Homo sapiens: one gene and its partner. The protein of the gene in region 2 interacts with the protein of the main gene of each other region in a biochemical or structural test. Each region holds a gene or a part of one and is shown on either strand. Other genes may lie near its edges.

Region 1 (7,998 bases), on a different chromosome or scaffold from region 2:
ACAGGTGATTTTCCTTCTTTAAACTTTTCAGTGTTTTCTACATTGCTTCCATGAGCATAAGTTCCTTTATTAAGACCAGGATTAGGAAATGATGATGTCAGTCTACTGGGACCTGATCCCTTTGTGACTGTCTTCTGTGTGCACTCCAGATAAAAAGAGAAGGACAAGAAGGTCTTGAGAAGGCCAGAACACAATGCTGCCTCATAGTCACCTTTGTTCCTTGGGTCACAGTCTCAAGATGTGTCTGTATCACACTCCTGGGAACCCAGTACTCAAAACTAGGAAAGAATGTTTTCCTCCGGTTTAGGCACTTTGTAAAGTTCAGGTCTCCTTGGCATAAGAACCAACAAAAGGCCAGTTTTGCAAGAGCTCCGTTCCTATTACTAGAAATGACCTTGGATCTGGTGTACAAACATAGTTTCGGCTGGCAAAAGCAAGCATCGGACAGCCCGTTAGTTGCTCTTGGTAAATAAAGCTGTATAGGGAAGAGGGGAAGAGTCTTAATAACCTGGCTGAACTAATCCCCATTTGGGGAACGTGCTTTTACCACCCTGCCCAGTCCAAATGTTAATACTTACTAATCTTTACTTTTCTAATCAATAAAAGAGGTATGTTATATTCAATATATATGCAACGCGTTTATTAACCAAAATAGCAATCTGATGAAACTCAGTGGTCAAGGAATGTAAGGGTTAAATTCCTGTCGCTGCTGTTTGAAAACTTAAGAAAGTAAGCTCAGAAACCAGACACCAGACGTGGATAAAAGACAGAAAAATAAAATGTTATCAGTACATATTCGTATTTTTGCTCCTATTTTCCGTTTACTAGCTATATTCCAGCATATCTCATTTCCAGTTATATTAAACAAGAGAAAATAAATTCACAAACCAAAGACCCTCGAAACATGATACTAAGCGAGATAACAACACCACTTTTTTACTAGTGCCATATTGGCAATTTGCAGGGGACTCCCTGCAAGGTCTCTGTCAAAAGACTGCAAAATAGTTACTCCTCTTTTAAGCAGAGAAGCTGTCTTCGAAGGAAGACTGCAGGTCCCTTGCCTTGCACATGATAAAACTGAGCCCAGTAACTGGTGGCATACTAGTTGACAAGGAAGACAAAAGGGTCATGAGAATAACACATGGTAATATTACATATACGTGGTAATTTGAACCTGCCCTCTCGACTCCTCAACTCAACATGCTTTCTAGGTCCCACCCACCACCACTATCACCTACAGCAAATGGAGGATCAGTTATCCCCAAGAGTCTTTAAGGACTAGATAATCTGGGAAAAAATACATTTGAAAACCATCAAGTGCTAATACGAAGCCAGCTACCATTTACCGGGTGCTTTCTGTGCCAGGTAAAATAATACACACTTTCTATAATTTTTACTTTGGCTTCCTAACACAAACTTTGCCAAATTGTCTCATTATCCTCAAATGCAGGTGAGTGACTTAAGTTTTACACCTGATTAGCCACAGAAGAGGATGTCAACCCAAAGCTTTTCCAAACACCAGCCTGTCTCATCATTGTAAGCAATGACTATGATTAGTAATTTCGAATTTAGAGTAACAGAGAACCTGGCACCTATTTTTAGCACACAACTGGCACCTCTTTTTAGCTAGGGACATGCAGGGACTCAGTCACTGAAAGTCTCTAACTGGGATGCAGGTATCCTAAGTCACTCTCTAGAAGGAAAAGGTACAGCCTTCCCAGTTTTCCACCAACCCTGACCATCCTGGCCAAGGAGCAGGCCCTTGTGCCTGGCCTCTTCCTCCTCCCCTACTCAGATAAGACTGGCGAATGCACGTGGAGTACTTGGAAAAGATGCTTATTAGCTGCAGCCTTCCCTCTCCCGGCCTAATCCATCTGGTCCCTGGTGCCCTGGCCCCCTGGGCTCCAAGGCTGAGCCAGTGAGTTAGCCCAGGGCCCAGGAGCCAGGGCTGCTTCTTTTCCCCACAAACCTCTCCAAGCCCTGGCCCACATAAATTCAGCCCTGTGCTTGAGTATCTAAAGCCAAATGTCATGACTCTTCCCCGACAACATAGATCCCGACTAAGGTCAGCCGACAGCTGTCCCAACCCTTTGCTTGTAGCAACCACAGAGGATGATGCTTGACACCCTGAGCCGTGAGCCAAGCGAGATCAGCCTCCGACCTCACTAGCCTCAAGGGCAACCTCAGCCCTCTCCCCACCATCGACAGCCCTAGACCTTACCCACGAGTAGGCCAATGGCTTCCAACCTCCCCAAAGTGTCCGCGAAAGTACCTATCTCACAGTGGGTCCTTACTATGAGTTTCCTAACCGTGCAGAGCAGTCAGGCAGCGGGCCACCCTCCTCCGAGTCAGTCATTGACAAATCGCCCCGAAACGCCTATATTAGCTCGAAGTGAGGATAAGTGAACCTTTAGGACTTTACCTACTGCTCAAGTTGGCAACAGTACAGAGCCCCAGATCCTCAAGACCCAGTGAAATCAACTACACCCTCAGCCCAGACTCTACTCCAGGGCAGTACTCCTCGCCCTAACCCGGCTCGAACCTTCAGACAGACCCCGGCGGATGGAGCCCCGCTCCCCAGCCCGGCGCGGCGGAACCCCTCGGCCTCGTGCAGCGATGCTCCTGGGCCCGGGGCGGAGGGCGCCTGCCCGGCACACTGGCCTGACCTTGTCGGAGCTCCGGGTCGTCCAGCACGTTGTAGGCCGCGTAATCGCGGACGCCGTGCAGCCGCAGGATCTGCACCACGGCGTTGCTGAAGCCGCACTGGGGCTGCTCCGGCGTCCCCTTGAGGAAGACCACCACCTTGTCCTTCTTCACCAGCGCGTCCAACTGCTCCGCCGAGCCGCCGCCGCCCGCGCCCGAGCCCGCCGCCCGCACGCCCGGACCCCAAAGGCCACCGCCGCCCGCGCCGCGCCCCCAGCGGAGCAGAGCCGCCGCAGCTCGGCCGAGGGACCCGCTCATCTCCGCACGCAAGCCGGAGCCCACGACGGCCCGGGCCCACAGCTGGCCACCCAGAGCGCTCCCCGGCCCGCGGCAGTCCGACCCGCCCCCTGGAGGCCCTCATTGGGCCGGCTCTAAACTGCCCTCCGTGATTGGACAATACTGATCAGTAATTACTCGATTCCACCAATCATGTTGCTCGTCCCGCCCGGCAGGTAGGAGGTGGGCCTTATGCCGGAGCCTCATCCTACTGCCTTACTATTGGTCGTCGGCAACCGCTTTGTTAGTTAATTGGAGAGACTGGATGTCCATCAGGGTCACGCTTGCAGGGCAACGAGAGGCAAAACAAGAGGGAAGACGACTTTCCTCCTGTGAGCCAATGAGGCCAGCTGGACTACGCCGAGACAACTGGGAGAGGCGCGGGACTCGCCCGTTCCGCGGAACGCCGGGAAGGGGTCACCTCCTGATGAAGTTTCCGGTTCCGGTGTCAGCGGCGGTTGAATTGCCATGGCAATGCGGTGGGCGCGCGCTTGTCGTGTTGGTCTCTTGGGAGGTAGCGGGGCTAGGCCGGGCGGGTATCCGCCTCTCCCAGCTTAGGTGAGCGTCCCCGGGCGCCTCCGGAGCGCCGCGGCCGCATGCAGTTCGTCGTGGCGGGGAGCCGGAGCCTGACCGGGGTTCCAGCGCTCGGGCCGTAGCCTTGGCTCCTGGACTTTCCCTGGCTCCGCCGCCACGTGGGAGCTGAGGCTCTGGGGCTTCCGCCTCCGGCGCGCGATTATTTCTCTAGAACAGTTTTCATTTTTAAAATTTGTAAAGCGCTTTTGCCTGTGTGATTTCCTCTGGGTTTTTTTTTTTTTTCTTCCTTTTTGTAGAGACGGAATTGGCGGCGGGGGCGGGGGGTCGATGTCTCACTTTTTTGCCCAGGCTGGTCTCGAACTCCTGGCTTCAAGGGATCCTCCTGCCTCGGCCTCTTAAAGTGCTGGGATTACAGGCGTGAGCCACCGCCCCCGGCCGCCTCTGAGTTTCCAGCCTCGTTGGCCCTCCAGCCTTTTAACCTGTTGGGCCTAGGATCAGGAAAGGTTTGTTGAATGGGGAACTAAGAAGTGAATTCGTTCGTTCGACAAACGTTTCCTGAGCAGCCGCTGGGTGCTAGGCGCAGTGCCAGCGCGGAATGTCCAGGGAGACCTGGTGCCCAAAGCTTGGACCCATCGTGAGAAATGAGAAGCAGATACAAAGCAGTGTGGGAGTGCAGAGGAGACAAAGCAAGCCTCATCAGGCCCATTGCTTGCTCTGCTCTCCCTTGTACTTACCAGTGCTTGACAATATACAGTTATTTACTAGCTTGGTTATTGACTTCCTACCCAGCACTCAGTTTTATTCACTGCTGTATCCTCAGTGCCTAGGACGATGCTTGGAACGTGGTAAGTGCTCCTATTGGCGGGAAGAATAAATCCGGAAGAGCAGGACCAGTGGACTTGCTACATAATCTGTAGTCTTGGAGCCGCACAGGGTTGGTGGTACCCTCGAGCACACCAGACTTGCAGAAAAAGCATACTCCAGAGGAAGCTGAGGCATGCCTGCTCGAGAGCCAGCTGTTCCATGTGCAATTTTCCTCTGATAGTTTCTGGTCACTGTTGCCACGGTGATAATGACTGGGCTATGTCATTATCTATCCGCCAACAGTAAGAGAAGCTTTGCAGTCGAGATATTGTTTAGCAGATGGAGTGTTTTCTGTTGAACACTAAGTACTGCCACAAGTTACTTTTTTTTTTTTAAACTTTGAGTATTTTTTTACAATGTTGCTGGAGGTGATCTGTTTATGCTTTGAGAGTGTTCGAATTTAAAATCAGAAAATCATGTCAGTGAGTGAGTCTTTCAAATAATCCTTCGGCATGAAACCTGAGCCTAGTAAACTATGAAAGTAAACTCGGCACATTACCCGAAAGTCTCAATGTCATATTTTCACCCCCATCAATATTATTGATGATTGCTCATTTTCTAATGTGGGACCTGAAATTTACCAGGTGCTTAAAGAATCTTTTTGTTTTTCAGATTCATTGATTCCAGGTAAATCAGAGGAACAAGCAACATGAACAGAAATATGTAGAAAAAGCTATTATGCAGAAGCATAATTGTTGTTTCAGAAGTCCAGCATCTGGTGCACTTAACAATAGAGAATATATTAAACTCTTTCCAAAATAACCTGTTGTTCCTACCTGTGTTGTAAGTGTTTTGTTTGTTTTTAAGTAAATATTGGTGATTTGTTGCCAAAAACCTAAACTGTTTGTTGCTGTCAACTTAAATAACGAACAGAGAGAGGCTCTCTAAAAGAAAATGGCATTTATTCAGGAATAGAGCACTGCAATGAGAAAATGCATGCGATAGTTAACTGTGTGTATCCTGGGAGATAGAGGAAGACAAAGGTCTTTAAAGGAAAAATGAGGAGGGTTACATAATTGTTTTGAGATAATTATTTTTGACTACAAGGATCAGTAACAAAGGTGACACCAGTCCCAGGTTGGACAGGCAGGTGCTCGGCAGGCATTGCAGAAGTATTTTTTGTGTAAGATTGAGATGGCCTTTGTGCAGGATTGTGGTTTTGGAATCTTCTGTGATCGTTTTTGCTATCAGGCATTTATGCTTGCGAACTCTTTATGGCCTTCCCTGTGTCTATTTTGATTCCACCTTTCTCATTGCCCACTCTAAACTGTAATTCTGCTTTTATGTTGACTGAGATCAGGAGAAGAATTTGCAAACTTATATCCTGAGACAGAACAGTAATGAGGAGTATCGTGTTCCTTACCTAATGTATAATATTGGGCTCAGAAGCAGTTGTCTTTTTTATTTGTTGAACGTTGTATTAAGTTGAGAATGCAGCTGCCATTAAAGATTAAGAGTAATCCTTGAGAAGGAAGAGTACAAAGCCTGTGTTTTGCTAAATCATAGTGAAGTTGCCGTGTTTTTGTAGAATATGATAAGAACATACAGTGTGTGAAATGCTAAGGATATGGAAAAGCATGTTGGTGCTCTTTCAAGGAGCTATTTTGATAGCATGAGCAAGGGCAGGAAACAGATCATGTATCTGAACCAAAGAAATTGAAACAATACATCTAAATTTAAATTTTTAATAAAACAACCCAAAATATAGTGAAATACTTAGCACCAAACATCAGTGATCTTAAGAAGCAAAGAAAACAGTATTCAAAATACTTCGTCCAAAGTATCAGACTTTTGCATAAAGTTTGGCATTTTGGTTTTGAGATTCCTCTTTAGTCCTATGATGAAAACATGACAAAATATACATCTTAAATAAACAGTTGTCATCAGTCTGCATCTATGACCAGATGTTTTGGGTGTTTTGAGTAAATGGCCTGTCTTAGCATGTGATGGCTTCCTGCCTCGTGAACATTAGTGAAGAGGTGAGGGTGGGAAGTACTCAGGAACTTCTGAGAATCCTGGGATTTGAGTCACAGGATTGGTTAAACCCCAAACTAAATAATCATGCCGTGTAAACATGCTGACTCAGGCATCCTAAAAATGTTTTTCTTCCTTGTGTTTATTTATAGATAAGGCTTTACTATATTTGGTAGAACTCCTGTTTTCTATCCACTTCTCCAAAAACAAATTCGCCATTGAATTCATCGTGTAAACCTCCACATATCTGAGATAGCTTCTTCCGTTTATCAGCCCCAAATGAAGAACTAGAGTTCAGATTATTGAACTGAAGGTGATGCTTTATCTGAGCACTCCACATGTCAGTGTTTCTGTACCTTTACTTTTTTAAAAAATTATTTTTTAAAAAGATGAGGTCTCAGTAGGTTGCCCAGACTGGTCTCCAACACCTGGTCTCGAATACTCCTCCCGCCTTGCCCTCCCAAAGTGCTAGGGTTACAGGTGTGAGCCGCCGCACTGGCCCTGTTCATTTTATGCTCAGTGCTGCATTCTTGTTTGTTCTTAGAAAATGAGAGGGTGTGTTTGCATGAGAACGTGTGGTACAGAAGTGTCTATCTGAGCTGGCCAGAACATTCTGCAAATGTCATATTAAGGGCAAAATGGCTGCTTGGATTGTACAAGGGGCCGAACCACCACGCATTCCTAAGCTAAAATAGCAGATTCTATTGACCTGAGCTGGAACCTGAAAGCTTCCTCTGTGATGCACTGAGCTATCATCTAGTAGTTTTAGAGCATCACTGCAACCCTGGAACTACCTGGATTCCCTGATAACACCAAAAATAATGTAATGTATAAGAAACTGAAGCAAAATGCAGCCCTCAGAATTTTTCTAGTCCCTATTGTGGAGATAGAAATGCTTGTTGGATTTCGACTACCTCTATCTGACAAGGCAGCTGGTTTATTAATACTTCTTTGGCCGAGGCTTTGCTCATCCCTGCCGCCCACATCTTGGAGACAGGAAGGCAGGCCAGCCTCCACTGTGTCACACAAGTCCTGCTCCCTTCACCTGCCCTGAGTCACTGGGTCACTGAAGAGAAAGGGCATGCTGTAGATCTGGTTAGTTCAGTCTAGAATAGACCGTGGGAGATAGGTGAGCATTTATGAAAAGCCCAGATGCCATGACAACCCAGTTTTGTCCTGGAATTTGGGTGGAGGTGTAGTCCTGGGTTCTGGTCTTAAACGTCGCTGAGTACTTGAGTTCTTTTTGATTTTCCTCAGATTTTTCCACATCTATTTTCCCCTTTCTGGATTTTGGAAAAATCCAAATTGATGTCTGCCGAAGTTTGTATATAATTGAAGAATTTCTTCATATAAAGGCTGCAGCGTTGTAAGAAATCTGTGTGTACTTTCTCTGCTCATAAATATTTACCCCCAAATGTTATCATCTTGCATAGATTGTACTTTTTTGTTAAATTTTTGTGTGTATACATGAATTCATTCGAAGCATACATTAACCCTAGGATAACAGTTCTCAGACATTTTGGTCTCCAAATTATGTTTTTTTCTAATATAATATGTTGATAGACATTAGCACTTGTGTCTCTAAGTTTTGTTGCCTTCACATGCAATTTCTGTTTTCCTGCTGATTCATAGCATCACCAACAAGTC
Region 2 (6,044 bases):
ATCTGTGTTCATTTCTAGAGTCTGACAGTTATATTCCGGCTATGTGAGAAAATTTTTTTTTTTAAGTAAATATACATCAGTCAGGATTCTCCAGGGAAACAGAACGAATGGTAGATATTTTGATAGATAGTTTTATTATAAAAAATTGGCTTTTTGATTATGGAAGCTAATAAATCCCAAGATCCCCAAGATCTTCAGGGTAAGTTGGCAAGCTGGAGACCCAGGAGAACTGATGATATAGTTCCAGTCCAAGTTCAAAGGCCTGAGAACCAATGGTGTAGTTCCAGTCCAAAGGCCGAGTCTAAGACCCAGATGGAGCCAGTGTTTACTTCTGAGTCTGAAGGCTGAGAAAAGCCAATGTCCGGGTCTCAAAGCAGTCAGGCAGAAGGAAGTCTCTCTTACTCCGGAGTGGGTCAGTCTTTTGTTCTAGTCAAGCTTTCAACTGGTTGGATGGGACCCACCTATATTAGGGAGGGCAATTTACTCAGTCTCCAATTCAAATGTTAATCTCATTCAAAATACTCTCACAGAAGCACCCATATTTGGCCAAATATCTGAGCACCAATCCTCTAGAAGTTGGGACATTAACCATCACAGGCCGTGCGTGGTGGCTCACGCCTCTAATCCCAGCACTTTGGGAGGCTGAGGTGGGTGGATCACCTGAGGTCAGGAGTTTGAGACCAGCCTGGCCAACATGGTGAAACCCCCCTCTCCACTAAAAATACAAAAATTAGCCAGGCGCCATTGTCCACGCCTGTAATCCCAGCTACTCAGGAGGCGGAGGCACAAGAATCACTTGAACCCAGGAGACAGAGGTTGCAGTAAGCCAAGATTGCATCACTGCACTCCAGCCTGGGCGACAGAGTGAGACTCCATCTCAAAAAAAAAAAAAAAGTTAACCATCACAGGTAGAGTTTAATAGGCTTTATCTCTGAAACTTAGTCTCAAACAGTCCAGAAAATAATTATATATTTGTAGATAGGTACATACAAATAAAACAAACAGTGAATTGTTAATATTTGGGTAATCTAGGTATCAGGATAAAGGATATACAGGAATTATTTGAACTGTTTTTTTTAACTTTAGATGCACAAACCTTGTAATTATCCTTGACACTTTCCCTCCCACAACCAAGCCATTACCACACCCTGTAGGTTTTACTTTCCTAATATACATCCTGTAGCCACAATTTCTCTCCATTTCCACCACCACCACCACCACCTTGGTCCAAATCATCATCATCTCTCACCTAGACTGCTACAGTAACCTCCCAACTTGTCTCCCTGTTTCCACTCTTGCCTCCTCTACAATCCATTCTCCACCCTGAAGCCAGTGATCTTTGCAGAATACAAACTTAAAGTCAGCTAAATGCAATGCATGATCCTTGATTGGTTTCTGAAAATTAAACATTTATAATGTTTACTTAGACTGTGCTGCTATTACAAAATACCACTGACTGGGTAATTTATAAACAGAAATGTATTTTCTCACAGTTCTGGAGGCTGGGAAGTCCAAGATTACGGCACTGGCAGGTTTGGTATCTAGTGAAGGCCAGTTCCTCATAGATACGCCATCGAGGTGACCTTACATGGCAGAAGGGACAGAAGGGGCCAACTTACCCCCTCAAGCTCTTTCAAAAGGCGTTAGTCCATTCTTGAGGGTGGAGCCCTCATAGCCTTATTACCTCCTAAAGGCCCCACCACTTAATACCAACACCATGGATTAATTTTCAACATGAATTCTGGAGGAGACATATTCAAACTATAGTAGACACCAATGAGACAGTTGGGGAAATCTGAATATCAACTGTATGTGATTATAGTATTGTATGAATGTTAAATGTCTTGGATGTGGTAATGGTATTGTGGATATGTATGAAAATGTCCTTGTTCTTAGGAGATACACATTGAAAGTACATAGCAATTAAGTGTAAAGAATTTTGTGGGGCCAGGCGCAGTGGCTCACGCCTATAATCCCAGCATTTTGGGAGGCCGAGGCGGACTGATGACCTGAGTCAAGACCAGCCTGACCAACATGGAGAAACCCCGTCTCCACTAAAAACACAAAATTAGCCAGAGTGGTGGCGCACGCCTGTAATCCCAGCTACATGGGAGGCTGAGGCAAGCAAATCGCTTGAACCCAGGAGGCGGAGGTTGCTGTGAGCCAAGATCGCACCATTGCACTCCAGCCTAGGCAACAAGAGCGAAACTCCATCTCAAAAAAAAAAAAAAGAATTTTGTGGCTGGGTGCAGTGGCTCACGCCTGTAATCCCATCACTTTGGGAGGCTGAGGCAGGCAGATCACTTGAGGTCAGGAGTTCCAGAGCAGGAGGATCACTTGAGGTCAGGAGTTCCAGACCAGCCTGGCCAACATGGTGAAACCCCATCTCTACTAGAAATGCAAAAAAATTTAGCCAGGTATGGTGGCACCAGCCTGTAGTCCCAGCTACTCAGGAGGCTGAGGCAGGAGAATCACTTGAACCCAGAAGGTGGAGGTTGCAGTGGGCCAAGATGGCGCCACTGCACTCCAGTCTGGGCAACAGAGTGAGACTCTGTTTAAAAAAAAAAAAAAAAAGAATTTTGGGCCAGGCGCAGTGGCTCACGCCTGTAATCCCTGTAATCCTGGGTGGCCGAGGAGGGTGGATCACCTGAGGTTGGGAGTTCCAGACCAGCCTGATCAACATGGAGAAACCCCGTCTCTACTAAAAATACAAAATTAGCCGGGCATGTTGGCACATGCCTGTAATCCCAGCTAATCAGGAGGCTGAGGCAGGAGACTTGCTTGAACCCAGGAGGCAGAGGTTGCAGTGAGCCAAGATCACGCCATTGCACTCCAGCCTGGGCAAGAAGAGCAAAACTCCATCTCAAAAAAAAATAAATAAATAAGATTTCTGCACCTAACTCAAGTGATTCAGCAGAAATAATTATTATTATTTCATTATTATTATACACACATACATTAAAAGAGATACAAAGCCAAGTCTGGCAAAATCTTATCAGTGAACCTAGGTGAAGAGTGGATAAATGGGTTGCTCATTGTATTAATCTTGCAAATTTTCTGGAAGTTTTAATTTTTTTTAAAGGCTAGGGAAAACAGTGTATGTCATAGTTTAAATTTCTTGAGTGTGATAAGGTTATTGTGGTTATGTATGAGAATATCTTTGTTCTTAGGAGATACATATTGGAGTAGTTAGGGGTGAAATGTCATGCTATCTGCAACTTACTTTCAAATGGTTCATCCAAAAAAGCATATAAATATATTTTAAAGTATATGTAAAGTACTTAAATATATGAGTATATATGTACAAGTATAAAATAAATATAAATGCAAAAAATGGTGGGTCAAGTGAAAGGTAGAGGGTGTTGCTTTGAACTATTCAACTTTTCTGTGGCTTTGACATTTTTCAAAATGAGAAGTTGGGGAAAAACATTTAGAAATATGTAAATATATTAAGGATACAAAATAAAATTTAAATAATTTTACAAGTTAAGAATCATCCTGGAAAAATTACATCCTGTTACATCCCTGCTTAAAACCTCAGTAGCTTCCCACTACTTCTAGGATAAAGACAAAATTGCCTAACAAGGGCTACAAGGCCTGGGGTGGTCTGGCCCGTTCCTCTCCTCCTGGTACCCTACTCATCACCATCAGCTGCCCCCTAGGCTCCAACCACACATAACCACACCCTAACTACACCAGAAGGAAAGACTCCCTCAAAATTCTCTCTCCTCCTGTCCTTTACACATGCAGCTACCAAAGCCAAAACCTCACTATGAGGGACTGAGAAATGGATTCTCATGTTGTTTCTGCTGAACTGTTTCCCTAAATCTCGGAAATATTCTCTGCCCGCCTCCCATTCCACCTCTCCAACCCCGGCCAAGTCTGGGTAACTTGCCTCCTTAGCATCCTGTGTTTATCTCATCGTAGCACCTAGTACCCAGTATTGCAATTGTCCGCTCACTTGTTAGTCTTCAGTGCTCTGTTGTCTCCTTGAAAACAGGGCCTGACTTGACTCCCCAGTCCCCAGCACTAGTCTGGGGCACAGTAATTATGTATTCAATCAGACTTCCATTTTCTTGCATATAAAATAAAGGAGTTGGGCTGGATGATCTACAAGATCTATTGGCAGTAAAATAGATCTAATAATCCCAATCCCAACTGCGCGTGAATTCCCTTTTTCTTTGCATTGCTGGGTTCAGACTTTCTGACCACCTTACCAGTGGGGAGAATCCGAGACTACAGTTCCCATGAGCCCTCAGGGCACCACGTGGTGCCTGCCCGTGCTACCAACGCGCAGCGAGGACTCCATTTCCCAGCGTGCCTCAGGAAGGGCGCCAGGACTGCATTTTGCTCCGGAGCGTCCAGAGTCCTGGCCCTGAGCGGGAATCGCAGTGGCCGAGGCTGAGCGGCAGGTAGAAGGGGCGTCTCCGGGGCTTCACAGGGAACACAGGGGCTTCGGCCCAACCACAAGTACGCAGTTGCACATGCCCTACTTTTGCCCATTCTTTGCAAATCCCCTAAGGAACGAACGCGCCTCGCGTGCGGGCCTTTCTAATCTTCGCTTGTCCCTTCACTTCCACAGCTGGAGGTCGAATTCACCACGTCACGTAGAGAAAAGGGGCGGTGTCTCGGGTCTCCCCGTGTGGCATCAAGGCGGGCTCCCTATAGGAGCTGGTGTGGACGTCCGGGCGTGGGGTTAGGGCGGATGCGGGGATCGCGGGGCGGGTGTTGACATTGTGCTCTCACCAGGCGGATCGCCCCGACCCTCACTCCTGGCGTCTGAGTCTCTGGCGTAGCCCATGCTGAGTGGGCGGCTGGTCCTGGGTCTGGTCTCCATGGCTGGCCGCGTTTGTTTGTGCCAGGGCAGCGCGGGATCCGGGGCCATCGGTCCGGTGGAGGCCGCCATTCGCACGAAGTTGGAGGAGGCCCTGAGCCCCGAGGTGCTAGAGCTTCGCAACGAGAGCGGTGGCCACGCGGTCCCGCCTGGCAGTGAGACTCACTTCCGCGTGGCTGTGGTGAGCTCTCGTTTCGAGGGACTGAGCCCCCTACAACGACACCGGCTGGTCCACGCAGCGCTGGCCGAGGAGCTGGGAGGTCCGGTCCATGCGCTGGCCATCCAGGCACGGACCCCCGCCCAGTGGAGAGAGAACTCTCAGCTGGACACTAGCCCCCCATGCCTGGGTGGGAACAAGAAAACTCTAGGAACCCCCTGAACCCCAAGAGAGGGAGGACCAGGATCCGAATGGGCTGGGTGAGCACGAATTACCGAGGCCTTCCCTTTGATACAGTCCAGGATTTGTAAGGGATGAAGACCCCTGGGCCCCATTCTGTTGGGGTCCATACATACTCTCCGAAGATAGCAACTTGCTTCAGGTCAAAGTGAACCCGAGAAAAGAGAAGAATCACTCACTACTGCTCTTGCCCTGGACTATTCAGGAAGGGCAGCCCGGATGTTCCATGTTAAATCGTGACAGAATTGCACCAGACCTGATGAGTTGGAAACAATCCTATACATTAAAAGAAATTACACTATGAGGCTGTGTTCTTAATGGACTGCTGAATCAGTGCCACAGGTGTTCTTGGGAGAAGAAAGATACTTGTAGACTAGTCGGGAAGGGCTTTATGAGGGAAGTGATCTAGTTGGATCTTTAAAGGAAAGCACAAAATTAACCAGAAAGGAGAGGATAGGTGCTGCAGGCAGGGAGAAGAACCTGAGCAAAGACATAGACGCTGGACTGAGAAGTGAGTTAATGGACAAGACAGGGGATATAGGCAGGGACACATTTGAATTTCATCTTGAGGGGGGGAATGTTTGGCTTTTTTACAGCCTGTTCATTTCCAAAAAGTAGTATTTGTATTTGTTTAAAAGAAAAATGTTTTTAAAAACCACTAAAGCAGTGAAAAGAGGATAAGAACTAAGAAAATGATTACAGATGATGAAGAAACCTTTATATAGCCTTTTTTTTCTTTTCTTTTCTTTTCTTTTTTTTTTTTGAGATGGAGTTTCGCTCTTGTTGCCCAGGCTGCAGTGCAATGGCACGATC

What was found.
Region 1: the proteins of BOLA1 (region 2) and GLRX5 form a complex in vitro, tested with the Homo sapiens proteins (2 studies listed by BioGRID).

Annotation. Positions count from the first base shown.
Region 1 is NC_000014.9:95,530,053-95,538,050, reverse strand, and holds the start of GLRX5 (glutaredoxin-related protein 5, mitochondrial precursor), read right to left. Parts: upstream 3,002-7,998; 5' UTR 2,962-3,001; coding exon 2,667-2,961; intron 1-2,666.
Region 2 is NC_000001.11:149,895,261-149,901,304, forward strand, and holds BOLA1 (bolA-like protein 1), read left to right. Parts: upstream 1-4,307; 5' UTR 4,308-4,412; exon of another isoform or gene 4,413-4,470; intron 4,471-4,582; exon of another isoform or gene 4,583-4,749; 5' UTR 4,750-4,799; coding exon 4,800-5,213; 3' UTR 5,214-5,535; downstream 5,536-6,044. UniProt on the Homo sapiens protein: Acts as a mitochondrial iron-sulfur (Fe-S) cluster assembly factor that facilitates (Fe-S) cluster insertion into a subset of mitochondrial proteins. Probably acts together with the monothiol glutaredoxin GLRX5. May protect cells against oxidative stress.